Regions from separate parts of the Homo sapiens genome. Here regions 1 and 3 are each linked to region 2. Evidence: fine-mapped expression QTL. A gene starts in region 2. Each other region holds a variant in brackets. All regions are shown on one strand. Distances are from middle to middle. Region 1 has its middle 64 kb from the start of PTP4A1. Region 2 holds the start of LGSN (lengsin, lens protein with glutamine synthetase domain). Region 3 has its middle 61 kb from the start of LGSN.

Region 1 (10,863 bases), 190 kb after region 2:
AACTATGACATTACTTCTAGCTATGGTCTCATACTGTTTACCTTGTAGCTATAAAGTCCATTTTTCTTTAAACTGCCTAATTTGTAAGATATAACTTATGAATGAGTCAGAGTTCTATAGATACAGACAACAGAAAGAGGCTCTAGTTCATTTATGGAAAGGAAACTTACTGAAATATATCAGACTTCATCGCCTGGAAGTAAGGCTAGAGAACCAGACTTTGAAATGTGCTGATCCAAGGTATTCGCAGTGGTCCAGGATCTGGAGATCACAAGAATGGCTTCACGTTGACAAAATCCAGGACTCGCCCCGGAATAGATTAATCCTCTCTTTAATCCTCTACCCAAGATTTAAATTCCAGAGAGTAGGTGTCTGATTGGCCTGGTTTCAACCATATATTCAGACTTGGGCTAAGAAAGTATAGGTCTGCTGAGTAAAAGTCCACCAGGCTGAATCCAAAATGGTAACAAGGCCAGGCACAGCGGCTCATGCCTGTAATCCCAGCACTCTGGGAGGGCGAGGCTGGTGGATTGCTTGAGCCCAGGAGTTTGAGACCAGCCTGGGCAACATGGTGAAACCCCGCCTCTACTAAAAATACAAAAAATTAGCCGGGGACAGTGGCACCTGCCTCTAGTCTCAGCTACTCAGGAGGCTGAGGTGGGAGAATCACCAGAGCCTGAGGGGTCAAGGCTGCAGTGAGCCAAGATCACCCCACTGCACTCCAGCCTGGACAACCAGAGTGAGACCCTGTCTCAAAAAAACCAAAACAACAACAACAATGACAAATATATAAAAATTTATATGCAAATAGTAACAACAATAATAATAAAATTATAATTCCCTCTAAAAGAAATGTGATGTTATTAGGAAAGAGAAATGAATGCTGAACAGTCACACATTAAAGATGCTCAATACACCATCCTTAACCATTTTTTTTATAAATACCTCACCTATTTTCAACCCATATTTAATAAAATAAAAATCTTTTTTTTTGAAACAGAGTTTTGTTCTTGTCACTCAGGCTGGAGTGCAGTGGCGATCTCGGCTCACTGAAGCCTCTTCCTCCCTGGTTCAAGCGATTCTTTTTTTTTTTTTTTGAGACAGAGTCTCGCTCTGTTGCCCAGGCTGGAGTGCAGTGGTGCAATCTCGGCTCACTGCAAGCTCCGCCTCCCACGTTCACACCATTCTCCTGCCTCAGCCTCCCGAGTAACTGAGACTACAGGTGCCCACCACCACGCCCAGCTAATTTTTTGTATTTTAGTAGAGACAGGATTTCACAGTGTTAGCCAGGCTGGTCTCGAACTCCTGACCTAGTGATCCACCAGCCTTGGCCTCCCAAAGTGCTGGGATTACAGGCGTGAGCCACTGCACCCAGCCTCAAGTGATTCTTGTGCCTCAGCCTCCCGAGTAGCTGGGATTACAGGCGTGCACCACCATGCCCGTCTAATTTTTTGAATTTTTAATAGAGACAGGGTTTTGCCACGTTGCTGAGGCTGATCTCAAATTCCTGTCCTCATGTGATCCACCCACCTCGGTGTCCCAAAGTGCTGGGATTACAGGTGTGAGCCACCACACTCAGCTGAAAATCATTTTTTATGACCATTCTGAAAACCCAAGAAGCTCCTTATCAATGCTTGATAATTGCAGTCACTGAAATACAGAAAGGACTAAGTGGATTTTATTCAAGCTGAGAGTTCAGAGTAGTGAAAAGCTCTTAGTGGTTCTTTAAGAATTTTCTCCCCATTTCTGAGTGGCAATACCATCAGCTGGCCTGATGAGAAAGTGGTTTGTCACACATTCTTTTGAGTCATAGTGAAAGGCATGATGGTGTCACCTAAAATTAGTAGATTAGCTATGCTTCATTTCTCATCTACACCAGGAACTGGTAAGGTTATCACCATGACCATGGCATTCCTTTTCTTCTTTATTGTCCTATATTGGCTAGAAAGCCCACCTCATCCTACATTTTGACCTTCCCTCTGCTTCCTCATTCCTGTTAGTAACTTGCTTTTTTTTTTTTTAACGTTATTGATATCTCCTCATCCACCCCCATTTTCTATCAAGCATTATAAAGTGAAGCCAAGGAATTATATGCTTTTCCTCATCTCTTTAGTTAAGAAATTCTAAAGTAAAGCCGGGCGTAGTGTCTCACATCTGTAATCCCAGCACTTTGGGAGGCTGAGGTGGGTGGATCACCTTGAGGTCAGGAGTTCAAGGCCAGCCTGGTCAACATAGTGAAACCCCGTCTCTACTAAAAATACAAAAATTAGCCAGGTGTGGCGGCACATACCTGTAGTCCCAGCTACTCGGGAGGATGAGGCAGGAAAATTTCTTGAACCCAGGAGGTGGAGGTTGCAGTGAGCCAAGAGCAGGACAGAGCAAGAATCTGTCAAAAAAAAAAAAAAAGAAAGAAAGAAAGAAAGAAAGAAAGAAAGAAAGAAAGAAAGAAAGAAAGAAAGAAAGAAAGAAAGAAATTCTGGCATTCTTTTTTGTTTTGTTTTGTTTTGTTTTGTTTTGTTTTTTGTTTCGCTCTGTCGCCCAGGCCAAAGTGCAATGGCACAGTCTCGGCTCACTGCAACCTCTTCCTTCCGAGTTCAAGCAATTCTTCTGCCTCAACCTCCCAAGTAGCTGGGACTATAGGTGTGCACCACCACGCCCGGCTAATTTTTGTATTTTTAGTCAAGACAGGGTTTCACCATAGTGGCCAGTCTGGTCTCAAACTCCTGACCGTCCACCTCATCCTCCCAAAGTGCTGGGATTACAGGCATGAGCCACTGCGCCCAGCCGTCATATTTTATTTGTAATGGGACACAGGGTATCTTCGAAGTCCTTAAAAAGAGATGTGCCAAATGTTAAACTGAGGGAGGCAGTTTTCAGTTGTTTAACTTTAGACTCATCAGGAGTAGAGTGGAAGAAATACTTTGAAAGTTATTTACATTCTTTGCTTAGGTTTTTGACATAGTGAATGGTATCTAGAAAAAGTCAAATTCAATCTTTTGGGTAGTTTTAAATAAAATAAAAATTTTGATTACATATTGATTTTTCTCATGGAAAGGAGATAAGTTCTTCTTGTTGTTGTTGGTGGTGGTGGTGTTGTTGTTGTTGTTGTTGTTGTTGTTTGAGACAAGTCTCGCACTGTCACCCAGGCTGGAGTGCAATGGTGGGATCTCGGATCTCTGCAACCTCCACCTCCCAGGTTCAAGTGATTCTCCTGCCTCAGCCTCCCAAGTAGCTGGGATTACAGGTGCCCACCACCACGCCCGGCTAATTTTTTGTGTTTTTAGCAGAGACGAGGTTTCACTGTGTTGGCCAGGCTGGTCTCGAACTCCTGACCTCGTGATCCACCCTCCTTGGCCTCCCAAAGTGCTGGGATTACAGGCATGAGCCACTGTGCCCAGCTCTTCTTGTTTTGTTGATGACACAATTTCCTTATTCATTCTGTTCACAAACAGGTTTCTATCTCTGATTGCTAACCCAGTTATTTTATAAATGGTTAACCTAGTAGAAGGATTTTAAGAGAACGGGCATACATGAAAGTTATCAAAAATAATTTGAACAAGCTTCTCTTCATTTTCTTCCCAAAATAAGAAAAATGGTCATAAAAACAGCTTGAGCTACCACTGAACATATATTGTTGCTCTGGTAAAGCATGTGTAATTTGGTTAGGGAGTCTGGTTTGCCCACAAATATCTCACTGAACATCTCAGAGAAGTTGATTTCCCTCAAAACAGAGCCTGAGACAAAAGTTCACGTGACACTATCTTACTAGTATCCCTGCAATCCCAGGGAAGCAGGAGTGAGGGAGTAGAAGAATGAGGAAGGGAAGATGGGAGAGCCAATATGAGGATGCCTTACCCCGACAAACCAGCCAAGACATTCCCACCTTCCCCAGGGTCCCCATGTATCTATACAAAGTACATTTCTCTCTCCATACCAAGTGAATGACCATTCGCACTACTCATAACATTGCCTGCCTGGAGAGAGGATTTCTTTTCACAACTGTCCCTCCGTCCTTGAGTGGAACTATAATGTGGTGGCAATTTACTTTCCACTATCGCTAATGTACTGTGAGAATTCATGTGTAAACTGGGCCAAGTTATTTCTTATTCCATCACTTAGTCAGAAGGGGGCACTTACTCCCCTCCCTTCATGAGGCCCAAGTGTGAGTTAAGGGAGGGTTATTGGTGCTACAGAGACAGATGACCTGAAAGTTTGAGATACATGTGCATATAATTCATTCATACCTTTTGAATATGGTCAAGCTGGATGCATATGTTTCATTTATATCATAAGTCTAATGATACACCCATCCAAACTTATCACTTACTGTATCTGATAACATCCTGATGAGTAGATCTAGTTGCATAGTCACCTGGTGTTCCACAATCAGGAACAGTTTCTATTAGAATCCAGTAAAATATCCAAAGCCAGTTTTCATATGAGACCATTCTTGTTATCAGCAGTTCCTGGACCTCATAAGTTGTATTGGCTCTGTTCATTTCAAAGCCTGATTCTTCATCCTTTCTGCCAAACAATGAGTACCTGAATTATCCCAGTAAATTTCCTTTATTTAGGTTAAGCAGAGCCTGTTTTTGTTTCTTACAGCCAAAGAACCCTGCTTCATAAAAATGGTATACTGTTCAGACAGGTTGATGGTAGTTCTGTCATTAATGCAAACTGAATTATGCATTTTTGTATAACATGTTATCTTCATGACATTATTGATCTACTAGAGCAAAAACATAAGAAACTGTTGAGTTTTCCATCATGCCCAAGAGACAAAAAAAAGCAACTTGGGTCTCTCAGCTCCATAGTCAAGCAAAGTAAAATACCACCACACTATTTATACCTAGTTGGATCCTAATTTTCCTTCTTTGGTTATTTCACAACCAATTCATGGTTAACTGTTCAATGTTACACATTTAACTAGTTCAAGAGTAAAATCACATATCTTACTCCAGAAATTATGCCAACTTCATATAAAAGAAAAATCAACTTTTTGAATGCTTTTCTAAGAATTATATTTTTGTACCTACTTAGGAGGTTAGTTTAGGACATTAAAGCTGAAAAAATATCAATACCATTCTTAGGCTCATTTTCCTCAAAAACAACTTCCTAAAAACTGGTTATAGAGATAGCCAGATGGCTGAAGAACAAAGTAGTAGTAAGACTTTTGATTGCCTTCCCTTTTGAACATTTAAAATTTTGCATTATGTAAACAGATACCTAGCCAAAAAATAAAATTTTTTAAAACCACCAAAAAATAAGCTAAAAAGTTGTATGAATTTATGTATCTTTATATAGTAGAATAATAAACATACATTAAAAATTATACTCTTAGGAAACACTAAATGATAATGTATAGGGATGCACACACCATAGCAAAACTATAAAGAAAAATAAATGATTAAAAGTCATTAGGGTAATTCACTTCAGTAGGGAGG[G/A]AGATGGTTATGTTATAAGAGTATTTCTGGCTGGGCACGGTGGCTCACGCCTATAATCCCAGCATTTTGGGAGGCCGAGGCAGGTGGATCATGTGAGGTCAGGAGTTCGAGACCAGCCTGACCAACTTGGCGAAATCCTGCCTCTACTAAAAAAACAAAAAAATTAGGCGGGCGTGGTGGTGCATGCCTGTAATCCCAGCTACTCAGGAGGCTGAGGCAGGAGAATCGCTTGAACCCAGGAGGTGGAGGTTGCAGTGAGCCGAGATTGGGCCATTGCACTCCAGCCTGGGCAACAAGAGCAAAACTCTGTCTCAAAAAAGAAAAAAAAAAAAAAAAGAGTATTTCTGGGGTGACTGAGTGAGGTGATAGTTACAGGTGTTCACCTTATAATAATTATTTATATAGTTTATTTGTATTCATATTATATTTAACAATATAAAATTTTGTAATAAAGGAAAAAAATTTTCTTTTTTTTTTTGAGTCAGTCTCGCTCTGTTGCCCAGGCTGGAGTACACTGGCACGATCTCAGCTCACTGCAACCTCCACCCCCTAGGTTCAAGCGATTCTTGAGGTTCAGCCTCCTGAGTAGCTGGGATTACAGGCGCACACCACCACTTCTGGCTAATTTTTGCAGTTTTAGTAGAGACAGGGTTTCACCATGTTGGCCAGGCTGGTCTCGAACTCCTGACCTCAGGTGATCCGCCTGCCTTGGCCTCTCAAAGTGCTAGGATTACAGGCATGAGCCACCACGCCTGGCCAAAAATACTATTTTTTAAGGATTTTTTTTAATAAAATGGGAAAATGTTCACAATACAAAATTCAATGAAATCGAGGATACAAAGCTCTCTATGCAGTATAATCTCAATTAGGTGTGCGCATGTTGTATATTTGTAGAAATCGACATTAAAATAAATATATCAAATATTAATTATACCTTTTAGTTTTTGTATTATTTTATATAGCTGCCATAGTTTCTTAAATGTATGATATAATAATGTGTAAGATGAAAATTTCGTTATAAAGGATGAAGTGATAAACCTAGCTTATAGAGTAAATATTAAACCTTAACCGTTTCAGTTCCTATAAACATAGGCATTTAATACGTTATAACAGTAAAATTTTAGAGCTAGGGGAAATCATAAGAGATTGTCTTCACACATGCCTCTGTTTTACAAATGCAGAAACTAAACAGTAGATAGGCTAGCTGACTTGGCCAAGGCCCCGGGTTAGTCGCAGACCTGGGATGGGGCCAGGTTTAGCACAGTGTTTTGCCCTTCCTCCCACACTGATAGTGCCTTGTATGGAGGTAGAACAGAAAGCCCTGCTCTTTAGGGAAAGTTTCACTAACTTTTCAAAACATGAGTATGTGATAATTATAATTAAGGACTATCACAAATGAAGTGTAAATTTATAAATGTAACCATCTAATAAAGCTTCGGTTAAAATTAATATTGGGGCAAGTTTATTTTTGAATTTTTTAAAGATAGAAAGAAACAACAACAAACCCTTGAGTTTCCAGAAGAACTGCCTGTATTCATTCATTTAACATACTAAAAGCAGCTTGTGACTGCCATAAAGTATGTCATTGCCGCCTTCAGTACTAAAAAAGTGGTCCAGTATATGAGGCAACTGCTCTAAATCATGCTTGTTTGGACAGGCTGTTTCTTAGTTCCACCTCATCTGCACTTTAGCCCCACTCTGTGCTGTGTAGACCCAAGCGATTTGCACAAACACCACATGATCCCAAAGGTACTTTCCCAGGGAGAAGGAAAAAAAACATAAAAGTTAAACTAACCCTTGTAAGTTCTAGTTACCACTTAATCTTTCTATGGTTTGACTACCTTTCTTTTTTTTTTTTTTTTTTTAGTTTTTTAAACACTTCAAGTCATAACTCCTCAGTATTTAATATTTAGATTTTTTTCCCCTTATTCTATTCCCCCAGAGTTAATCTCTTCTCCCCACTTTCGTTCAATATCTATTATGTGCCAGGCACCATCTTCAGTGTCAGGAATACAGAAATAAGCAAAACATGTTCTCTTCCTTCAAGAAGCGAATTTTTTTTTTTTTTTTTTTTTTTTTTTTGTTGAGACAGAGTCTCGCTCTGTCACCCAGGCTGGAGTGCAGTGACACAATCTCGGCTCACTGTAACCTCTGCCTCCTGGATTCAAGTGATTCTCCTGCCTCAGCCTCCTGAGTAGCTGGGACAACAGGCGCATGTCACCATACCTGGCTAATTTTTGTATTTTCAGTGGAGACAGGATTTCACTATGTTGGCCAGGGCTGGTCTTAAACTCTTGACCTCAGGTGATCATCCTGCCTCTGCCTCTCAAAGTGCTGGAATTACAGGCATGAGCCACCGCTCCCGGTCAAGATGCGAATTATTTAGAGGAGCAGCTAGACAGATAAGCTAATGATGGCAATAAAATGTGCTTGGTAGAATAAGGAGATCAATGGTGCTATGCTCATGGCACCTATTACTCTAGGAGTAACAATCAGGGCACTTAACACAAGTGCCTGGTTCTACATTCCCACCTCTTCCTGCAACACGCTATATCTATAAGATGATAAGATGAGCCCAATGGAAGCCCTACAAATCCTGATCCCTACTCTAGGTCAAGCTTATACAAGTAAATAGATTTCTTTTTTTTTTTTTTTTTTTTTTTTGAGATGGAGTTTCACTCTTGTAGCCCAGGCTGAAGTGCAGTGGTGCAATCTCAGCTCACTGAAACCTCCGCCTCCTATGTTCAAGCGATTCTTCTGCCTCAGCCTCCGGAGTAGCTGGGATTACAGGCATGCACCACCACGCCCAGCTAATTTTTGTACTTCATTAGTAGAGACAGGGTTTCACCATGCTGGTTAGGCTGGTCTTGAACTCCTGACCTCAGGTGATCCACCCACCTTGGCCTCCCAAAGTGCTGGGATTACAGGCATGAGCCACCGCACCCAGCCTCAAGTGAATTCTTAAAATGTAGCTTTGAGAATTTGAAATCATTACCTGGGCATTTTTAAAATTTTGACAGTTTATAGTTTACCTAGATGTTTTGGATTATAGACCCCCAAATCTAACGTATTAAAATTTTTTCTGAAACAGAGCTTATTATTTTATGGTTTTGAATTGTCCCTCAGAATCAAAATTGGAAAATATTTTTACTGTGTAATTTTTCTTATGCTTCTTACTGAGAAAATGACTCTCCAAATCTGAAGATGATGAAAAATACACATTGGGATTTGTTACTACTTATGTGTACACATTTGAAAGACAGTTTAAATCCACATACTATTTATGATGTTCTTGGCTGCAAGTAATTAAAAAAATTAATAATTCCCTAGCAAGCAGATGCAGATTGAAAAAATTAAAAGTGGTGAAACTGTAAGGATACTTATTTTACTATATGGCAAGAAGTATGGAGGTAGTTCTGCTCCTGGACTGGCTCAGTCGTCATTAAGGACTCAAGTTCTTTCCTTCGCTCCATGTTCTTTTTTTTTTTCTTTTTGAGACAAAGTCTTGCTCTGTTGCCCAGGCTGGAGTGCAGTGGTGTGATCTCGGCTCACCGCAACCTCTGCCTCCTGGGTTCAAGCGATTCTCCTGCCTCAGCCTCCCGAGTAGCTGGGATTACAGGCATGTGCCACAGCTGCCAGCTAGTTTTTGTATTTTTATTAGAGGCAGGGTTTTGCCATGTTGACCAGGCTGGTCTGGAACTCCTGGCCTTAAGTGATCTACCTGCCTCGGCCTCCCAAAGTGCTGGGATTACAGGCATGAGCCATGGAGCCAGCCTCATGCTCTCATTCTTTGCGTGGTGGCTTAGTCCTCAAGCCTTATCCTTCATTGCTGCAAAGTGGCTGGGGCATATCTTGACATCACATGAAGACCTAGAATCATTATCTTCCATGCCCCACTTTTTATTTAATGGGGAATATTTTTCCTGAAGTCCCCACAGAATTAGCTCCGTTGGCCACAGTTGCCTCTCATACCCAGGCATAAGTCATTCATTGTGCAAAGGGTATGAGACTACCATGATTAGCTTAGATCAATTAAGATAGGCTTTTATGAGACTGCAGAGGGGTCTATCTTCCCTCAGATAACATGTTGAAGGATAAACATATCTGAGATTTTGTTAGTATGGAAAAAGCAGTGTAAGGCAAATAGTTTCAGGGAAATTATACTCAAACTAAAAATTCAGTGTAAAATAAATACAACAACTTTACTACCCACAAGTTTTGGTATGATGCTTAGAATCTGATCTAAAATCCACTCACTCTATTCTTTCAGCAAACATTCTTTGATCACTTATTACACGTTGGGCACTGTTCTCCGTACTAAAGCAGAGAACAAGACAGATACGTATTTGTATTGGGAATGCTTTCAGCAGCAACTGACAGAATAGGAAATTAAAAGTGGCCAAACCATAGGGACATTCAGTGTTTGCCCAGAGAAATTTAGAGGGAGGCAATCCCTAGTCCATCTCCTCTGAAATATAACCAAGAGTCCAGGTTCTTTCTTCTCTGGGTCCTTAACGTGCTGACTTTTGTCTTTATTCTTTTCACTTCATTGTTCCATAGCTGTCATAGTTCTAAATACCTCATCTACTTTCAAACGAGAAAGAAATGGTAAAGGACACTTTTTTCTTATTATTGTCCCTTTTGCAAAGATTTAAAAACCTCCAGAAGCCTCCTATGCAGATTGCCATGAAATCTCATTGGCAGGATTGTGTGCCACACTGGTCTTCTCAAAAGCAAAGGAGTCTAGGAAGGTAATTATCCAACAAAGTGTTATGGAGCCACACACACTGCTGCCCCAGATAAAATGGGGATTTTTTTTTTTATAAGGGGAGCCATGGATAATGGTTACCCAATTACAATGTTTGCCGTAGTCCCCTTTTCCTGGAATTAATTCTCTGGCCACTTCTTGGAAAAGTAATAATAAATTAGGAGTACTTTTCATACTCTAGTTTTAAAATTATGTGTGAGGAATTTGTAGTGGTTCTTAATGTTGTTTTTGCACATTCAACTAGAAAAGCAATTGGCCAGGTGTGGTAGCTCACACCTGTAATCCCAGCACTTTGAGAGGCCAAGGCAGGTGGATCATCTGAGGTCAGGAATTGGAGACCAGCCTGACCAAGATGGTGAAACCCCGTCTCTACTAAAAATACAAAAATTAGCTGGGTGTGGAGGCGGGTGCCTGTAATCCCAGCTGCTCGCGGGGCTGAGGCAGGAGAATTGCTTAAACCTAGGAGGCAGAGGTGTCCGTGAGCTGAGATCCTACCATTGCACTCCAGCCTGGGCAACAGAGCGAGACTTCATCTCAAAAAAAAAAAAAAAAAAAAAAAAAACACTGGAAAACAGACATTTTGCCTTTATTCCAATGTGGCTTTAGAATTTTTCATAAGGAATATGTATTAAGATATTACTTATATAAATA
Region 2 (10,863 bases):
AGTGGCTTACACCTGTAATCTCAGCACTTTGGGAGGCCAAGGTGGGCAAATGACTTGAGGCCAGGAGTTTGAGACCAGCCTGGCCAACATAACAAGACCCCCATCTCTACTAAAAATATAAAAATTAGCTGGACATGGTGGTGCACGCCTGTAATCCCAGCTACTCGGGAGACTGAGGCACAAGAATCACTTGAATCCGGGAGGTGGAGGTTGCAGTGAGCCAAGATTGCACCACTGCACTCCAACCTGGGCAACAGAGTGAGACCCTGTCTCAAAAATAAATAAATAAATAAATAAATAAATAAATACATACATACATACATACATACATGCATACATACATATACACATATATAAATACATGCTTAATGAAAGGAAACAAAAAAGGAGATGTAGGAGAGAGTAGAAAAAAAATAAAGGGAGGTCCCTGGGAGGACAGAAAAGATGGAATCTGGGATTGAAATAAAGGAATTAACTTTAATACATTTTCCTCTATCAGAGGAAGGAAAAGGGGTAGATCGTTAGAAGAAAGAGCAGAGTTAAGAACGGCATGTTTGTGTCCCCCACAAACCATACAGTAAACCCTAACACCTAATGCGATGATGTTAGGAGGTAGAGCCTTCGAGAGGTGATTAGGTCATGAGGCTACAGCCTTCAAGATACAATTAGTGCCCTTATGGGGAAAAAAATATAGAAGAGTGCTTACTTCCTCTGTCTCTGCTCTCCACCATATAGGATACAAGAATATGTACATCTACCAGCCAGAAAGTGAGGCCTCACTACATGCTAGATCTGCCAGAGGCTTTAACTTGGACTTACAGCCTCCAGAACTGTGAGAAATAAATGTTTGTAATTTAAGCCAGCCAACCTACGGCAATTTGTTATATTAGCCCAAACTGACTGAGACAAGGAAGGAAGAGAAAAAATGAGGAGGAAGAGGACTATTAGGAGGAGAAAGACAGAAAGCAAAGAATTGTTAACATTTCATGAGTGCCTTTCAGATGAGATAACTGAGCCTCAGGAAGATTTTCACCCAATAAATGGCAGAATTTCAATCTAAAACTGATTTTAAACCTTAATCTATCTTATCCATTCTGGATAAGAAAAGGTGGAGGGTTGTGATGCTTCCAATTTTCCCTTTAGGGTAAGAAGTGTTCAGATAGAGTAGGAATATGGAAGACTAAAGGCTTAAGGAGAATGGAAATTGTTTCACATAGTTATAGTGGAAACTGAGAAAGAGCCGACTCAAGAAAGAAAAATATCAAGGGCCCAGAAAGAATTGGAGGTTTTAAAGTTTAAAGTGACACCAATCTGCACAGGTAATTATTTTCTCTAGCAAAGCTCAGCTGGAAATGTGAAGACACCATGGTTTAAGGTTTCATGAGGTCACAAACTCAGAAGGACAATGACAAAAATAAGTTGAGGATTTGGGCAAGGAAGATGCTAAAATAATGGGATATGGAATCCAAGACAGATGGGATAAGAAGTCAAGTCAGGAAAGGATGACAAGAAGAACATGTCAAAGACTGAAGATTCTTAGAAGGTGGCATTTAGATGTATCCTTGTGCCTAACATATTGCCTAGCATAAAGTAGTAATTGAGTAAATAATTTCTAATTAATTAATTATAACCAAGACCTACCATGTTGAAGTATAAGGCCAGAAAGGACATTTGACTCAGACTTCTCCTTTATAAAAGATTCTAAATGAGACTTCTTTGGATGTCAGCAAGACCTGATGGTAACCCACTAGGATGATTCAGTCAAAACAGCTTTCCTAGATAAAATATGGCATGGACTTCTTCAAAGTTTTCTCTAGAAGGGCTTAGACCTGTGCTTCTTTACTTAGATGGGCTTGTGCTAGTGAAAGCCTGCTCTACAATGCCTCTGTAGCTTTACTCTATAAATTTTACCTTTTCTTTAGGGTTTTTTCACAGTAGTTACCCTCAATATCAGGCCTTTTCACCACGGTTATGATTACCCCACTTAAGATACTGAGAAAACATTATTTCTCTTGCTTTTCTGAAGAATAGCTAAAATGTTCTCTCTCTCTCTCTCTGTGTGTGTGTGTGTGTGTGTGTGTGTGTGTGTGTGTATGCATGCTCTCACTCTCTATATATCTATATAAATATATAGATATATATTTCAGTGAGGCAACTGAGGATCTGATAAATGCAGCAACTTGACTGGCTTCATAGCTAGAACATAGCAGAATTCAAATATGTGTGGTTTACAACTCTTATTTCATCTCTTCATGCTACTTACAAACTTTATATGTGACAAAATACAGAAAACTAAGGAAATCCAGGTCTTAAAAAAAAAAAAAACTCCACATTTCAAGTGAGAGTTCAATAGTATCTCTATCTTTTGAAGTAAAACAAAGCACAGAAGGAAAATCCAGATAAATTGCTTGGAATTTGCAATGAATCAGAATTTTACTTAATATAATAAGCCCAAAATGGAATGGGTTATTTGTCAAAGTGTTGAGTTTCTCATCTCCAAGCACATTTGTGGGGAGATTAGCCAAATGTCAGGGTCAACCTGGTTAATTTCCACTTCTACAATCAAATTTTCACTTTCTAACTGTTTAATCCTCACCACTTTTACAAGATAATAACCTAGACCTAAGTTGGCAGATTAGGTGGAACATTCATATGTGACCGAGAATGATAGAGCAACGATCATTACTGAGAGCTCTGTGTGAAAGAAGTATCAGAATGTAAATGATATAGCTGCTCCCATATGAAAAGCTATGAGTCTCGTTTTTATTTCTAACAAATTGGCTAATAGTCAACAGTGTGTATCAACCCATAAACAAATCTCACCTCTGTGGGCAAGTTATGCAAAATCTACAATAGAAGTTCTACACAAGAAAAATATACCTAACCAAACATTTTCAGAGAAGGAAAAACATAATTTTACAAAGGTCTAACACCATGTGATTTTGATAATATGAAGCTAAATAATAAAGAACACTAAAATAATAAAGGAAGCAAAAAGTTTTGTTTTATTTAGTATGTTCATAATTAAATCAAAGAAGAATTCTCCATATTTTTTAGAGAAATTAAGATCGTATGGCTAAAAATATATTTATCCATGTAGACAGGACAAAAATAATTTGTGAAGGCTTTGTGGGTGAGCAGAAAAGCAACAAAAATATTTCAAAGGTAAAAAGACATGTAGAAAAAATTTAAATATTCATGTATATATAATATATATTTATGATAATGGGCTCTGTAATATAGTATGAAAAAAGATCCAAGAATGTTATGGAACTGTTCGTGAAGATATCAGCTAATGGGCTGCTGCAGCATATAAAAATACTGCAAATATGAATATAAAAATACTTTAAATGTGAGAGGGGAAGGTGCTCTACCCTTTAAAAAAATTATGATATGCCTGTAACTGATTGCTAAAAATAGTTCTAGTCATTGTGCCTTAGGAAAGCCTTAATAGGCTAGAAGTGGATGGATATATGTTTATGTAAAAAGGTATATTATATATAATTGTTATCATTACTATCATAAGCAAACAAATTCTATCATGTAAAGGAAAACATGTAAAACTCTTTAAGGCTGTAAAAATGAAAACAGGAGAGCTATTAGAGGTCAACATAACATAATAAAGTATATGTAATGAATGACTCCTTTTTAATGAGTTCTCACTATATTGTAAGCACAGTTCTAAGCACTTTACATGTATTAACTCATTTAATCTCCACAAAATCCCTTCCTGTAGGCACTATTAATGTCCCAGTGAGGTACAGAGAAGTCCAATACTTTGCCCCATGTCACACAGCTAGTAAGTAGCAGAGCCAAGATTAAAATGCAGGCATTCTCATTTCAGGAAGTGCGAGCTTAATCCACTGCCCTTGAAACTCAAATCTAATTTTTGTCTTGTCTCTCCACTGAGAATTCTTAAATGGAGAGCTAGTTGATACACTGGAAGTAGGTAAGTTTGAGGTAAATAATTATAAAATGAACTATAAACCTTGAAATCTTCAGAAGACAAATCTTCTGAATTCTCAGAGACAAAACAAATGGAAAATACAAAACAAGAATCAGGAGGTCTCTAGAGTCACACAGACAATAGCATAAAGCAGGGAAAGCTGGGGTAGGTAAATCTCTAGCCTCTTGAAGCAAGCCTCTAGAAGGTCAGGTAGAGCCTCCCATGGGGCTGCACTTCATGCCCCCAACAGATACAGGCTGCAGAGCAGGATGAGTCTCTGACTTCACCCCAGATGGCATTCATTCCTTCTGTGATATGGAAACGTCAGAACTGTGTCTACCTGTGTCAGTGTTCTCTGTATTGAGTTATAAATATCTGCAGGGTGGGGAACAGATCTTACTCACTTGACATATTACCCAGCTCAGCACCACACACAAGGTTCTTGATAAACAGATTTTAATTGTTATGATATGCCACTCTTTCACTCAATTTCACAATTTCATACACCCATAGGATCTACTTTAAGAAGTAAGAATGTGTTTTCAATCTATTTTTTGTCTGCCACTGCTAAGAATGTAGCTGAATGCATGACTTTACAGCATTGTTTTAAATAGAGAATCTCAGTAAAATATTCTTTAGGGGAGTACCAAACCTAAGATTAATAACTGTTCATTTTACTGAATATTCTGACAAAGAATTTCTTCAGACTGGGGAAGTAAGTATTCTGAGGGATTTTCTCCATATACACAATCTGCCCTTCGGAATCCACTGAGCTTTTGTTCAGCTGCTGTGTTTTGTAGTTAACTTCATGCTGCTCTTGCTCACATTACCAGAGCATCTAGCATGAAACACAGTCTTGTCCTTTTCCAAACATCTGTTAGCTGGAAAAGGAATGTCACATGTCATCTCTCTCCCTCCTTCCATATTCTTTCACTTCCTGAGAATGCGAACCTATACAGGAGAGTATAAAAGAGCTTATTCAGTGGAGTTGGGTCAAGTGGCCAGCCAAGATTCACCTTTATTACATCTAGTAAATACAATGCTCTATTCCAACTTTGAGGGAACTTTTCCTCAAAAGACAGAGAATGTCTCTTGCTGTGAGAATTGTGCAGTTTAAAAATCATATTGTTCATTTTTCTGCTCTCCTAAGAGTAAACAATCAACATTTGGTCTAGACTGGTCTTGAGGAGGGCATGGCTTTTAAGGACTTTCATGGGAGCTGTATCACCTGGAATCCTGGACTAAAATTGTGGGAGCTGGGGAAGAAAGCAGAGTTCTGCCATGGGATCAGAAGTAGTAAGTAAAACTAGTCCAAGAAGTTACATAGTTAGAAATCAAAATCCCAAAAAGCTAATGATGTATATGCTAATTACCTTTACTTTCTTTCTATAAGCCTTCCTTTGCAGCTATGAATTTACTTTTAGCTAAATTCATTATAATCACATAAACATGTCCACCATTTGATGCCTACAACAGTGACATGACAGTACAGGATAAGCCACAGCTCCTCCTCAGGGAGTGCCTTCTTCACATAGCCTTGCCCAGTTTCCCTTAGGGAAAGTGCATTTGTTCTTGACTCTATTTCAAAACAACTGCTTGTATTCACTATACAGATCAGTGAACCCATTCTTAGATGTTAGCTATCTTCTCCACTACATGCAAAAGTGGGGACCAGGTTTGTTCTCTATATGCCACTATTTCATACATAATGCACTGGTCTTCCACTGCACTCTTCACATAGTAGGTATGCTTCTTGCATTATATTTTCTTAACCTACTAAAGATAACTCACATCCTCCCAAATTTTACCACAGCTTGCCTCCAAGTCTGCACTTCAGTCTTTCAGAATGGTCAGTCAGAAATACAAGAGTGAAGGTTGGGTACACACACATTAAGAAGTGAGGAGAAATGTTATATGTTGACAACTGATTATTTTAATATATGCTAGACCCTATAAGTGGCTATCATTATTCATGCTGTGCATTTCAAATATAATTTGAAAACAGGTTTCCACCTTTAGTCATTTAATCTCAAAGCATATTTATTAGAAAGAGGCCAAAGCTTTGAGAAAAACAAAGATTATTCTCTCAATAACAACCAAAATAGAAATAAATTTTTTTATAGCATACTTATGCTTCTGAAACTCAGTGCCTATTGAACTTAAATGATTATTCAAACCAAATGAGCTTTCCTAGATGAATATTTTGAATTGTTTAGTTTTTATTATCTTTATAAATTCACTGTGTAGTACAGAAGGGCAATTCTTCATAAACTTCTCCTGAGTGGACATATAACAAGTATAATTATGCTGCCCTTATTCTTACTGGCATTCAAATAATTGACATTTTTTAAAAAGATTTACTGTCAATATTTTGGTTAAAAACATTTTAATGATTAGCTTCATACCTCCTGCAGAAGGTCCTCTTCATTATTCATCTCAACACTTTTTAAGTTCAGCGTTAGAAACCACAATATCCTCAACAAATGCATTCAACATGTATTTATATGTGTACCTACAACAAAGACTGCAGATGATGAATTCCATAGAGGCTTTTCCAGAGGGGTCTGGCAGGTAATAAAAGATAAACATCAGATTCTGATGTGTCATGCCCAAGGCACAGTATGCTGGAAATGCACTAGAAGAATCGAATGACAAATGCTTGTTTACGCCTGACTCCCTGCAAACAAAAGACATACAAAGCTTAAAATTGTGTTGGTTGATTTTTTTCTCCAACATACAGAATTTTTGTTACATAACAATTGTATTCTGGAATGATATCTATTGTCAGATTCAGATGATGAAACACTTATTAGACGACTATGCTATCAAAGCCCACAGACAAAAGCACAGATGGAAAAATACAGCTATAAGTGACCCAGATTTTTACCAATGGCAAAGATCCACTCATTTGTAATTCTCATTTTTATTTTCTTTTCTAGGTCCCTCTGGCCTCCAAATTAATTCTGGACCTTCATTATAAAACTGAAATATCTTTCTTTAGCTTTTCCAATTCTCCGATGTCAGTCTGTGACAAATCCCAGACCATCCCCACTGTGCACAATGAACACAGAATCATCTACAGGCTGCCCCATATGGTCCCATAAACAATCCTAACTCAGTAGAGGAAATAGGGAATGCTTTCTCTTCACTAGTAAAGGGGGTTTGAAATCACACTTCTGCTGCTATCAACTCAACTTCAAGTATTGTTGATGAAGGAGGATATGCAGTTTCTTCTGAACCAAACCAAATTCTCTCTAAGCATTTTCCATGTGGAAGTGTATAGTCTCCATGGCTAATCACTTCTTCCTGGTCTTCTGGGCCTGAGGAAGACCAAGCCAATACTTACAACCACTCAATCCTGCCTGACTCTCTTGGCCCATTTCAAAAGCCCCATTTCCTAAAGACAGTGATTAACTATTCCTATTTCCATTCCATTGGTACTTGTTCCATGACTGACTCTAAAGCTTCTGCTCTGTGTAGCCTGATCTACAACCAGATCTTGAATTTGGACCTAGTTCTGATGCTGATGCCAGCCTGAAACTGCATCCTGAATATGGCTGTTTTGGACTCTTGAACCTCCCCAAGAAAAGGGATTCTATCTCCTATCCTAGTATTTGACTTGCTCTTGGTGCTTTCCCCCAGATCTCTAGTAGGGTGTTTAATTCCCACAATGTCTTGTACCAGAGCCTTACCTAAGTTTTTCTCAATCCTCTTCTGAGACCACATTTGCTTCCACTTTTACAACTTTTTCTTGCATGTGCTTGTCTCCATGCAAAACAGGTGCCATTGAGCTATGGAAAAAAATGTTTTGTGAAAAATTTCGTTTTTGTTTCAGAAATGTTCCCTTTCCTATATCAAAGAAAAGAACTCCAAGCTGGTTTACATGTTCAGTTACATATTGGGACATGTTTTAAAAAAATCATTCCTTTATAGTACTACTTACCCAAATTTTCTCCTGGGAGTTTTATTGTTATTGAATATGCAATTTGATTCATTTCATCTTCTTTTCCTTACCTTATTTTGACAATCTCTTCTTCTCAATGTGTATCCATGATTTTTTTATAATATCCTTTCCTGAACCTTGATTTGCCCATTTTTGTAAAAAGTGTTCTAAAGCTTGGTTGGACATATGGTGTATAACCTAATTTATGGTATTAGCATGATACATATTTTAAAAGTATTACCATTATTTAGAATCAGTTTTTCCAAAGGAAAAACCAAATGTCAGTAAAGGGCTTAACAAATAGATTAGAAAAATAATAAATGGTCAATAAGTCCATATTAAACACTTTCATTCACAAGCATTTGTTCAATCTGTACTATATCCAGAAAGCTATCTTAGTCAAAATGAATATAGTCATTGAGCCATGAATGTAAATGATACAAGTCTTTCTCTTACCACTCTTCTGAGACAACATATGGAAAGACCGTTCAACTCAAGTACTTCTCCTGCCAAAAAGTTGTAATCTAATTGAATGGATCCAGAGAAGAGTAACTAAAATGATTAAAGGAATTATGGGATTCATTTCATGAGAACAGATTGCAGAAGCTAAAGCTTACTAAGTACCAACAAGGGGAAACAATATGTTGTTTACCACTAAGTTACTGCCTTCTGATGAATTATTGAACAGGATTGGAAGAGCAAAGGATGCAAATTAGGTAAAGGATTAAATCTATTCTTTCACTGTGGGAGAAAATGAAATCACAATGAATCTGTTTTTGTTTCATGTTTACATATATTATATGTTACAGTACAGTGTATAAAATACAAAGTTCTTGTCTTCCCAGCACTAACTGATAAGGAAATAGGGTGAAAACATGCCCAATGAGACCAAGGGAATAACTGACTTGTGAGAATAATAGCCAAGTTCAGTGAAGGAAATAATCTTTCTTATGACCTTCATGAATCACAAAAATATGGTTTCAGGTCAGCATAAGAACATAACAACCACGACAGAAGGATACTTCCACCCTACCTTTCTCCCGATTTGTTGTTGTTCTAGAAGCTGCATGGGTTTGTTCCTCCTTTATATGCATCTAATTATGACATACCTAACAGGAAGACTACATTGACACCCTTTATTGAAGATAACATCATACAAAAATTATAAGGAGTAATATTTGAGCTTCCCTAGTGGTTCTAGAACTCCTGTTCACAAAGGCCCCCAAAAGTTCCTTTCATGAATCCAGTCCCCATTTCTTTTCAGTTCTTCCCAGAAATACCTCATTTTCTAAGAAAATGGTAGATCTGTTTACAGAATTAAGATTTAAAACCGATGATTAAAAAATATTGGAGTGAGGACAGGTAGAAAATCAGTGAATTCAGGGCTGAGCGGAAACACACATTGGCAGGGAAACTGAAGAATATTTTTGTGTGTCCTTTTCATTTGTTTCAGAAAGGGAATTTCTCCTCTCATCTGCCCCTTCGATAAACCTAAGTAAGCAATGAGTAGAAAACAGCGTAACTCCCTGAAAAAAATTATTTTGTAAAGTTGATACAATTTAAAACTAGTTTAAAATCATTTTAATTTAGCATTTTCAATGATTTTCACATATCCTTAAGCATTTATATATTTAGCACAAGCTTCATAAAGTTAAATGAAGTCAGTTGTGAAAGTGGAAGCATGAAATTCTGAATTCCAAGGCACATAAGGAGCTTGCAATCACATATAATAAGTTAAAAATTATTCCAAAACAGCCCAAGCTATTTTTAGAAGGAGAGTGCCACAGAATACATTTCTTTTTATTTGTAAGATTTATGGAGTCCAGGTGCAGTTTTGTTACATGAATATAGTGCATAGTGGTGAAGTCTTGGCTTTTAGTGTAGCCATCACCGGAATAGTATACATTGTACCTGTTAAGTAATTTCTCATCACTCATCCCACTCCACCCTTTTGAGTCTCTACTGTCTATTCACAGAAGACATTTTTATAACACCATTAATTTTAAAAAATTGGTAGCTGGTGTTGTCCTTGTTTCCTTCTTTTAATGGCATCATTCTACTTATTGTGATAATATCTACAAATTCTTGAGAGCACCAAAACCTCATATACACACACACACACACACACACACACACACACACACACACACACACAGGTTATGTTAATCAATATTAGCATATTTAAAAATATAATAATAATGGGCATTGTACATATTAACATAAATAGCATTTTTTATAGAAAATTGATTTCTTATTTTCACAAATTGCTCTAATGTCTAGCTTAAGAGAAAAACCACTGGAATCTCGTATGTTTTTGCATTCTTTTTTTTTTTTTTTTTGAAACACAGTCTGCTCTGTCACCCAGACTGGAGTGCAGTGGTGCGATCTGGGCTCACTGCAACCTCCGCCTCCCGGGTTCAAGCAATTCTCCTGCCTCAGCCTCCCAGATAGCTGGGATTACAGGCACCCGCCACCACACCTGGATAACTTTTAGTATTTTTAGTAGAGACAGGGTTTCGCCATGTTGGCCAGGCTGGTCTGGAACTCCTGACCTCAGGTGATCCACCTGCCTCAGCCTCCCAAAGTGCTGGATGACAGGCGTGAGCCACCGCTTCCGGCTTGCATTTATTCTTTTGATACAGCCCATGTCATGCAACCTCTGGAAAACTTCACTATACACTAATGCTAGATGAGAATGAAAAGGCAAATAGAGTCTTACCATTACTGTGAAAATAATTTTGACCTCACAGTCTCCTCAAAGGTTCTTGGAATCCCTAGGGGTCCCTGAACCATACTTTCAGAACTGCTGCTGTAGTGAAACAACCAGCAGATTAAAGACTTGAGTTCTATAGGAAACACTGTTTTTTAAAGACATATCACATAGTTTTCTTGATAACAGTTTCCTTTTGTGCAAAATGTGGTTTAGGGCAAGATGATCTCAGGTTTCTCTTAACTCTGTTCTGTGATTGTGTAA
Region 3 (10,863 bases), 62 kb after region 2:
ATTTATGTGGATATGTATATATTCGTCTGTACTCACCATCTACTTTATTAGTTGTTGGAGAGATTAGAGAGTAATGCATTTAAGGCAGTTTGCCTTTGGCTGGTACATTATTTTTAATAATAGGTTTTATTATTTCTCAACTTTAAGAAACTTTTTAAAGGGTCAAGATAATGCTGAGTTTGGAAATGAGATAAGAAAAACAAGAGAGAAAGATAGCATGTTAGGAAGTGAGTAGAAAATTACTTCCTTTAAGTGAGATAATTCCCTAATCAAAAATATTGCCTATGATATTGATAATAATTGCTAATGTTTTTTGAGCATATACTATGTTGTAGGTATCATGATAATCACTTTCTACATATTATCTTGTTTGGTCCTTAGAACCAAATGAAGTGAATGTTGTATTATCTTTATTTTGCCTAGGGATTAAGTAATTTTCTTAATGTCACAAATTAAATATAATAGTACTGAATGATATCAAACCCAAGCAGTCCAAACCCGTTCTAACACACTGCTATGCTCTCTCCACGATATATGATTCTTTACTCCACAGACCTTACTTCATACCAGATTATTTTGCCCATGTTCCCCCGATGCTTGCTAATTGCGCTTACATTTTCTGTGTTTTGTCTCTCTAACCATTCCTACACTCTTCAAAGGCAGAGAAAAAGCTTTCTATTTCTTTTTTACTTAACCCAAAAGCTTATTAAGGGCAGAACACAGAACGTTTCTGAAGAAACACCCTGGGCTCACAGCAGAGAGCAATGCAGATAATAAACACCAGGAGTACTATCTAAAACCTAAGAAACATCAAAATTATACCCTTTCCTCACTTTTCTTAATCAATACTTTCTATTTATTCAGAGCCAAGCTTACAAAGGGTAAAGATTGCCTTGATGAAGAGCAAGCCCTCTGTCTACTGATGCTGACATCTAGAAAAATCACTATGCTCAGATTCAATATTCTGCACTATAGCTCCCTAATAGACTCAAACAAATGGCAATGGATACACTCAGCCTTTTCTGAGCTTCTAGAAAACATTCACCTATTGCATTTCTCTTTAACTTCTTTTTTAATTATCTGACTGCCTCTTACCTGAGCCCAGTAGAATTTTAAATATGAGAAAGGAATCATCAGAGAATAGGCTTAAAATGAAAAAAGGAAATAGGAAATTGTATTTTATTTGACTTTTTAAAACTCATCTACTTTCAGATTGAGTCAGTTTGCTAGCTAAAACAAGATTTTGGGGTGAATAACTTTTACTAGAACATACAAAGTGCATTTTAACAATGGTCTACATTCACAAGTGGCCACTATTCTTGTCCAAACACAATTCAGCTGAGTGTTCCTAGGCTTCCAAACCCAGAACAAAGCAGAACAAAAGAAAAATATAGTATTTGAAGTGCCTTGCTTGTGCTTTTCTAATCTAAACAGACTGCTCCCATATTAAGAAAATTACTTTAGGTGCAAATGATACCTCAAAAAGAAGTAGATAGATATGCACTGATTCTTTTTGACATTATAATTTATAGCTTAAATTAATTTTAGACTAATTTTCCTCTTACTTAGAGCAAAATATTGCTAAGGGAACAGCCTGTCTTCATCTGACTTATAGTAAACATTTGCCACTTAGTATTCTGAAACCAGCTGGCTTTTTTAATCTTTGGCAATAGACGCTAACGTATCCTTTATGAATTATGGCAAGCCAATAGGCAGAGAGCAACCCAGAAGGTGTAAGAGGTCTAACAATCAACCAGGCAATAGAATGGGGGTTGGTAACCATCAACTGCATGCCCTGAAGGCAAATTTTCCACAGCTTTCCAGATGCTGCCATGCTGCCTCCCTCACTCCACCTTTTGCCCCAGCTCTCCAAACTCAGCCCTGGGGAGTTGGTTCATTCAATCCTTCAAAGAAGTGCAAGGATAAAGAAGCAGGAAACTAATTACCTCATGGTGTGATAAGTGCAGGATAATTCTATAGAAAGAACACCTAACGTAAACCTAGAAGATCAAAATAAGCTTCCCAGAGAAAGTGATGTTCTGACCAAGAAGAGAAGAAAAGAGTTAGACACTTGGGCCAGGCACGGTGGCTCACACCTGTAATCCCAGCACTTTGGGAAGCCGAGGCAGGAGGATCACTTAAGGTCAGGAGTTTGAGACCAGCCTGGCCAACATGATGAAACCCCATCTCTACCAAAAATACAAAAAATTATCAGGGCGTGGTGGTGTGCGCCTCTAGTCCCAGCTACTCAGGAGGCTGAGGCAGGAGAATCGCTTGAACCCGGGAGGTGGAGGTCGCAGTGAGCCGAGATCGTGCCATTGCACTCCAGCCTGGGCGACAGAGAGAGACTCCATCTCAAAAAAAAAAAAAAAAAAAAAAGAAAAGAAAAAGGATGAATAACAAGAAAGAAAAACAGCCTTATTGCTGATATGGAGAAAGGTTTTAGTGGTCTAGGTAGAAGATTAAACCAGATTTTTGAAAAAAAAAAAAAAAAAGAAAAAGAGACACTTGAAGAAGAGATGGAAAAGCAATCTAGAAAGAGAAAAGTATTTGCAAAGGATGACAGGTAAGCATGACCAAGGAACTGAAAGAATTTCAGTTTAGCTGCAGCATCTAATGAACACAAACGCTTAGGGATCTAGAGTAATGGAGACAACATCTCATATCCGCAACAATAGAAACATCTGGCTTTCTTGATCACCACAGCAGGGGAACAGACATCTGAATGACTTTTATATACTTCAGTCTAGAAGTGACACACATCACTTCTACCCACAGCCTATTGGTTAGCACTAGTCATATGCTTCTCCCACCCCACCCCCAAAATTATAATGACCTAGAAAAGTAGGGGCAGATGTAATGTTTAATGCATACCACTGTCTCAGGTATAGGCATGATATTAATGGCTGTCTTACTCTATTTGTGTTGCTATGAAGGAATATCTGAGGCTGAGTAATTTATAAAGAAAATAGGTTTATTTGGCTCATAGTTCTGCAGACTGTACAGGAAGCATGGCACCAGCATTGGCTTCAGGCCACTTCCACTCATGGGGAAGGCAACGGAAAGGCACATGCACAGAGATCACACGTGAGAGAGGAGGCAAGAGACAAAAAGGAGGGAGATGCCAGGCTCTTTTTGAATAACCAACTCTTTGGGAACTAATAAGAGTGAGAACTCACACAACCCCACCCCATGCTGACAGAGCATTAATCTATTCATGAGAGATATGCCCCATGACCCCAACACCTCTCACAGTCCCCGCCTCTGACACTAGGAATCAATTTCAACATGTGATTTGGGGGACAATATTCAAACTATAGCAATTACTTTGTAAGTCATGTTTAAGCAGTTTGCTTTATTCTGAGGGTATCAAAGAGCCAATAAAGAATTTTAAGCAAGATAATTAAAGGACTGGATTTAGAACTTTTTGCAGCTCGGCAGGGTTTCCTCCCCTATTACTTCTCCTCACCTCTAAGTGGATAGGCAGTCTTTCAGAAAGCTATCCATGGAAATGATGCTGTTAACAAATATGAGATAGTTAAAATCAACAGAATGATCCATTGTCACCCCCATCCCTCAATTAAAAGCATGTGCTTTTTTGAGTGCCTCAGAGAGTAAATGCCCCCCCCTTTTTTTTAAAGCTCCTAGTTATGGTGTAGCAGCCTTAAGGAAGATGGATCATTCAGGCATAGTCAGGCACTGATATGTTTTAGTAAACAGAACCAAGAGAAGGGGATACCATGAGGCCTGAGCTTTGAAAACGAGGAGACAACTGCTGTTGTTGGCACATCCTTTCATTCCTTCTAGACACAAGCCTCAGCAGACATCCAGTGCCATCAGATCACTCTTAAAGAAGGGCCTCAGCGTAGCATCCACAGCTGGTCACTACTTCCTCAGGGATGACTTGCACCTGGGAGGAAAAATAGGATAAAGGTGGAAGTGCAGTTGATGTTGTTTCTTTCCTTATCTGTATTGCCAATAAAATTGCCTTTTCAATTTTTCTCAGTGATTAATATTTGTATGATGTGTGTGTATCAAGCAGACTACAGCAGGTCCTCTTTAGCTCCTCTTGCTCCAGTGGTCAATAACTCAGTGATTAGCAGAAGCACCTCAGAAGCTTGTTAAAAATACAGAGTCTTAGTTCATGCATTCAACTTACTTAATCAAACTCTCTGGAGTAGGATCCATGAAGCTAGTTTTAGTTGTTTTTGTTTTTTTACAAAAATTTTGCAGGCTTGTAAAATGTTGCTGTAGTTAATGTAGAAGCAATCTGCCATATAATTTTTTTCTTTTTTTTTGCGATGGAGTCTTGGTCTTGTTGCCCAGGCTGGAGTGTAATGGTGCAATCTTGGCTCACTGCAACCTCTGCCTCCCGAGTTCAAACAATTTTCCTGCCTCAGCCTCCCAAGTATCTGGGATTACAGGCGCCTGCCACTACACCCAGCTAATTTTTTGTATTTTTAGTAGAGACTGGGTTTCACTATGTTGGCCAGGCTGGTCTCGAACTCCTGACCTCAGGTGATCCACCGCCTTGGCCTCCCAAAGTGCTAGGATTACAGGCATGAGCCACCACGCCCGGCCTCATAAAATTATTTTCTAGCTAAAGATCTACTATGGCTTTTAGTCATTTACAGGGTTTTGTTTTGCATTATTTAAATGTGTCTGTTTCAACACATCTCTCTCAAAAAAAGTTTTCAAAAAACCAGAGACCTTGTCTTCCTCCTGTTGAATTTCTGTGCCACTTTACACATTGGTAGGTACTTGGCAGACATCTAAAAAATACAGAATAGAAAGCAATAACATCAATTTGAATTGGTATTCTTGATGGAGATGAGTCTGCAGACGCATATCACAGGAAAGGAAACAGCATTCCTCCCTAGGGCACAGACCTATTTTTATGTTCAAGCTGCTCCTTTTTGGTAGACAGCGTCATAAGCATCACCAACTTAAGTCTGCTGTTTGACAGGTGGAGTCTTATGTGATTGACTTGATAACATTCACTTTCTGAAAACATTTTTTTTTCAGCCTTCATAGAGAAGTTACGGAAGGAGCATTTTTATTGCCATGTTGCAGGTTAGCCAACAGGATAAAATTTGTTCATTGTGGCATCAAAATAAAAAAATAGCTCTTTTCTTTTTTTCCTAAATTTTTGTGCTCTTTATCCTCATTCTAGATGCCAAAAAGGTATTTGCCTTTTATATGCATGTTTTTGCTTTGTATTTAATACAGGTTTGAATATTTCAGAAACTTTATGAAAATATGGAAACCCTATTTGGAATTTGATCTCAATTTGCAGAAAGAAAGTTCAGGAAATTTTTTTTCAGTTAAGAGACAAACAAACACCTGTTAAAAGTGATGGGCCAGGCGTGGTGGCTCAGGCCTGTAATCCCAGCACTTTGAGAGGCCAAGGCAGGCAGATCACTTGAGCCCAGGAGTTTGAGATCAGCCTGGGCAACACGGCAAAACCTCATCTCTAAAAAACAAAATACACAAAAATTAGCCAGGCATAGTGGTGCACACCTGTAGTCTCAGCTACTCAGGAGACTGAGGTGGGAGAATCACCTAAGCCCAGGAGGTC[G/A]AGGCTGCAGTGAGTCATAATTGTGCCACTGTGCTCCAGCCTGGGTGACAGAGTGAGACCCTGTCTCAAAGAAAGAAGAAAAAAATTTGAGAGACAGCAGCTTATGATGCCAAATAAAACATATGGATGTCAATTAATTTCAACTTTTCTGCAATCTGTATGCCAGTTTCATAAGGAAATAGTTCAAATCAGGGCATCCACAGGAAGAAAGTAGTTGGTTGATGAAATTTCTTCCTCTGCTCAAAGTTTAACAACCGCTCTTAAATTTCATCATGAAATGCTTGACCTTGGTACTGAAAGAAAAGAGTAGTACTAAGAAAAACTGCCTTCTTCTATAGACCACACCCTTCTTGAAAATAACTTCTTATGAAAAGTAATATCAAACAGGCTAGCATTTCCTTCATAAAAATTATCCAGTAAGAAAGCCTTCTCAGTGCAACTGGTTAATACCATTTAAAATTATTGTTTCTGAAAGACCATGAATATCACAACTTACCTCATCACCACAAGTTTGCAAATTAACCCATTCATCTGGAAAAACTAAGTTGGACCAAAATGGCCATGATAACTATAATTACAATAAGAAGTTATAATAAAATGCAGGTGGCTGCTTGATATTGCCATTTCATCTTGTCCAGCTCCAGACACAGCAAGCAATGGAGCTCAGAAATTACCCCCAGATTATGGCATTATAGCTCAAAGCATAGTGCCCTCTAAGGAAACAGAAATGTCTCTCTGTCATTAGTTGAATGTCAACAAAAAGTCACTAAGGGATAATATTGTTTTTTTAATTCCAAAGAAAATGTTTCCTGACTACATGACAACTCTTAAACACTATATCACATTTTCACACTCATGCTGAACCTACTAGCACACAAATTAAATTCCTGGTACCTTAAACATAAAAGCAATCAACCAAGTGCTATTCTTCTTCAATCATTAAGGCTTCTCACTTTCAAGAGGAAACAAAGCTTAAAACAGGACCCTTGAATATTGTATTTCCTCTACAAAATGTATTATATTTCATAAGCAAGCATTTTAAAATAGATAATGCCATCCACATTGAAGAGAACTTACATTTTTATATAGACTCAAATATATCTTCACTATAAATACTTACTAGTAATAATATTTATTTTAACAGTGAAACCCTAGTTAACCAAAATTATTGGTGTATGTATACAGTACATTGAATATGTCTTTATGCATCCTTTTAGACTTTCACCTCACCTGTCTTGCATTCTGGCTGCAGGTGAAGCAACCAGTCTGTGCACTTCCAACCACTTTAATATAGGTTTTCTTTTACAGCACCTTGTCTCAGACCAGTCCCCAGGAGCCTCTCATCTTCTGCCCAGGTGTTCTCTGTTGACCACACTATGTGAGATGACACAGAAGCATGTTTTGCACCCATGCATGTGTTACCTAGGAGGGTAAAGCCAATCATTTGACCATTGAGAGATACAGGTTTCTCACTGTCTCAGAAGGACAGTCCTAAGACACATTTTATGTGCCTGGGTGATTGAGGAGCTAGTTGCCTGTAGACATATATACTTGATAATACATTGTCATTTTGCATCTCTCTTCTGTTTGGCTCACCTTTGATCTCTGGACTCAATACTTCCCAATAAAGTGTTTTAAAACAAGACTTTGTCTCAAGCTCTGCTTCCTGGCAAACCCAAGCTAAGATATAACTGTACAACATATACATATATAATAAGAATTACTGCTGTCACATACTGTTAAGTTACAACAGTTCAAGAATGGGTAAAAGTAAATACTGTTACCATCATTATTAGCCATGAAAAAGACAAAAGGGATTATCTAGCTCAATGATCTTTCTAAGTTTATGTAAGACCCACATTCTAATTAATTAAATAGCTACAGGCATATGTATCTCAAATTCAAAAGACTGCTTAACCTTTCCTGCTTTTGTTCATGTTAAGAAGGAAAGCCTTAAGCACCTTTAAAAGAGCAGATTTATTTGTTTGTTTGTTTGTTTGTTTGTTTTTATAGAGATAGGGTATAGCTATGTTGCCCAGGCTGGTCTCAAATTTCTGAGCTCAAGCAATTCTCCTTCCTCAGCCTCCCAAAGTACTGGGATTACAGGTATGAGCCACCACATCCAACCAAGAGTGGATTTTTTTTTTAAAACTTTCTCAATGACAGAAGGGAAGTCAACCAACTCATAGGTTCATACCCACACAAAATAGCACATAAACCTTGTTTAACCATTACTTACACACACACACACACACACACACACACACACACTCTTGCATGCACATACACAGACCCAGGGGATCAACAGCATATTCACACAGGGATAAGAATACACCAGAACAGAATAGACCAAAACTTAGAGATAAACCTTTTGAACAGGGCGTTTTTTTAATCCAGGTAACTACTTGATGATCATAGTGCAAATTATGCCCTCATAAATAAAAATAAGACACAAAACAGATTATAGAAATTCTAAGTCTTTACTAAACTAATTTTCTCAGATTGTGCTGGACACAGACAAGTCATATACTAGATTCAATGCCATTAACTATACACTATAATAGTTTCTAATATCCATGTATTACCTTATATTTTAATAACTTTTTCACTGAGTTGTCTTATTTAATCCTCCAAATCTGTGAAATAATTGACTTTATCATTCCCATTTTACAAATAAAGATCAGAGAGGGTAAATAACTCATAGAGGATACAGTATACTGCCTGCACTGCAAAGTCAGAATTTGTAGAACTATTTATTGAGCCACCCTTTCAAACTCATTTTATCTCTGGTTATTCATTAATATTGTCTCCCACATACCAGCTTCTCTGCTAACCACTTCTCTAACTTGACATTCTAAAAGGATCCTAGATGTCTGCTTTCAGTTCCCTAGATTTCACCACTCCTTAGTGTATTTACAGTCTCCTCTGCTTCTAAACGTTTAGACCAACCCAAATCACCCATAAACCACAAACCTATGATGATTGTGCACACCAGTTGGCTGCCTTCCTAGAAGTCCTCCCCAGTTTTTTCCATGCTTGAAGGGCCCTGATTTCATTTGATGTCTACCTCTCTTCCTGCCACGAGAACCAAGGAGGGGTTACCCCATTTTCAGTTCCAAGAGTAAATCTTGATAAGCCTATACCAATAATTATGACCCCAGTTGTTTTTCCAAGGATTGGTTTAAGCATGATCACATGACCTAATTCTGCACAATGAGACATGAGGGGAGATGATATGGGAGAAACTTATGGAAAGGTTTTCCACTACCGTTATGAGCAGAATTGTGTTGAATTAATACGTTGAAGCTCTAACTCCCAGTACCTTAGAATATGAATGCCTTTGGAAATAACACCTTGTGTGTGTGTGTGTGTGTGTGTGTGTGTGTGTGTGTGTGTGTGTGTGATGGAGTTTTGCTCTTGTTGCCCAGGCTGGAGTGCAATGGCACAAGCTCGGCTCACTACAACCTCCACCTCCCAGGTTCAAGCAATTCTCCTGCCTCAGCCTCCCAAGTAGCTGGGTTTACAGGTATGCACTACTACACATGGCTAATTTTGTATTTTTAGTAGAGACAGGGTTTCACCATGTTGGTCAAGCTAGCTGGTCTCAAACTCCTGACCTCAGGTGATCCCGCCTCAGCCTCCCAAAGTGCTGGGATTACAGGCATGAGCCACTGAACCCAGCTGAGATAATGTCTATAAAGAGGTTACTAAAATTAAATGAGGTTTTATGGGAAGTCCCTAATCCAATCTGACTGATGTCATTTTGAGAGGAACTATGGACACTTGAAAAGACACCAGGGATAAGCAAACAGAGGAAAGACTATGTGGGGACACAGAGAATGTGGCCAGCTGTAAGCCAAGGAGGATGACCTCAGAAAAAACAAACCTGTGAATCTTGGTGTTGAACTTCGAGCCTGCAGACTATGAGAAAATAAATTTCTGTTCTTTAGGAAGCTCAGCCTGTGGTATTTGGTTATGGCAGCCCTAGAAATCTAATATAGTCATTTAAAAATGACATGTAAATGAATTTTAAAATAATGACACAAGGAAGGAAGCACCCTTTCTGTTACTGGACATTTTGATATCTGATTATGAAGATGGGAATTGCTTTAGCCATCTTACACCTGTACAGAGAATCCATCTGAGAACTGGTTTCCATGTTGAGTATGGCAGATCTACCAAAATATACATAAAACAAAAACTTATTTCTTAATGATGCTGCTGAGCCACTGAATTAACTAAACTTAGATCACTCTGTCTTCAAATGTCCTCTTATATGAAAATAAGTTTCCCTGATTTCTTTAAGCTGTGGTTTTCTATAAATTATAGCCAAAATCATCCTATTGATACAATCAATTGGATAAAGTTTAGCTATTGACAAGCTAAGGCTGTTTCAGCAGTTGCTCTAGACTTTACTCCTTTATTACTCATCAGTTCTTAGTCTTCTTCCATTTCCAACTCTATACTCTTGGCTCTTAAGTTTTGCCTCCAACCCGTCACAGAGTTTTTAACTTATGTCTAACTTATCCATAGTTTTCTAAGCATTAGACTCTCAATTGTCCCCTATAAACTTGCTTAGTTTCTCTTAGGTGGGAATTACAATCTTGGATCTATCCACTTAAATGAAGTCCAAAGTCAGTTCCAAAATGTAGGCAAATTCAGAAAGATAAGCTAATAACCTATCTTTTAGTTGACATGGTCAACCCAATACATATATCTGTGTTATGCTCTGTTTATAAGTAATGGCAAATTCCTGAAGGACCGATACCCAATATCACATAGGCAAAAAGTCTGAGACCTCAGACCCAATTTCCTGACACCAACTACTTTACTAATTCCATTATTCATTATTCTACCCAATTAATAAATTTGATGTTAATATATTGGGACCAGATAGTATTCACTTAACAGTTTTAAAAAATTATAAGGTGAAAATGTAGAAATACATACAATTTCTCATTAACTTTATAAATTGCCAGAGATTTAAGGATTTATAAAATATTAAAAGGATTTTGTAATTGTAGAGTCTTACCTCCCTACTTGGAAGTTTGATAGAGACTTTATAAGCAAGAGAGGGACCCCTTTGTGAATATAGATAGGATGAATACATAGAGCTTAATCTATAATCCAAAATTCAGTGGGATAAGACATGCCACCAGGTAAACATTTTACTTTCTGTAGCTCAGCTACAAATACATTGACCTTGATCCAGCCATTGAGAATATCATTGACTTTCAGAGTTTTGGGGCTTTTTAATTTTTATTTTACTATTATTATTATTATTA

What was found. PIP is the estimated chance that this variant, and not a neighbour inherited with it, causes the effect.
Region 1: its variant is the best candidate, but not a certain one, in a credible set for the expression of LGSN in whole blood (TOPMed, PIP 0.56).
Region 3: its variant is the best candidate, but not a certain one, in a credible set for the expression of LGSN in whole blood (TOPMed, PIP 0.64).

Annotation. Positions count from the first base shown.
Region 1 is chr6:63,503,163-63,514,025 of GRCh38, forward strand. It overlaps a transcript of LGSN not described here. Among named protein-coding and RNA genes, the nearest start is that of PTP4A1, 64 kb to the right of the region's middle. RefSeq lists an enhancer at 1,516-1,655. The variant G/A (reference allele first, on the strand shown) is at 5,445.
Region 2 is chr6:63,313,563-63,324,425 of GRCh38, forward strand. It overlaps LGSN (lengsin, lens protein with glutamine synthetase domain), which reads right to left and starts at 6,421. Exons shown (of 4, transcript NM_016571.3): 1 at 6,352-6,421. The coding sequence starts at 6,381.
Region 3 is chr6:63,375,557-63,386,419 of GRCh38, forward strand. It overlaps a transcript of LGSN not described here. Among named protein-coding and RNA genes, the nearest start is that of LGSN, 61 kb to the left of the region's middle. The variant G/A (reference allele first, on the strand shown) is at 5,579.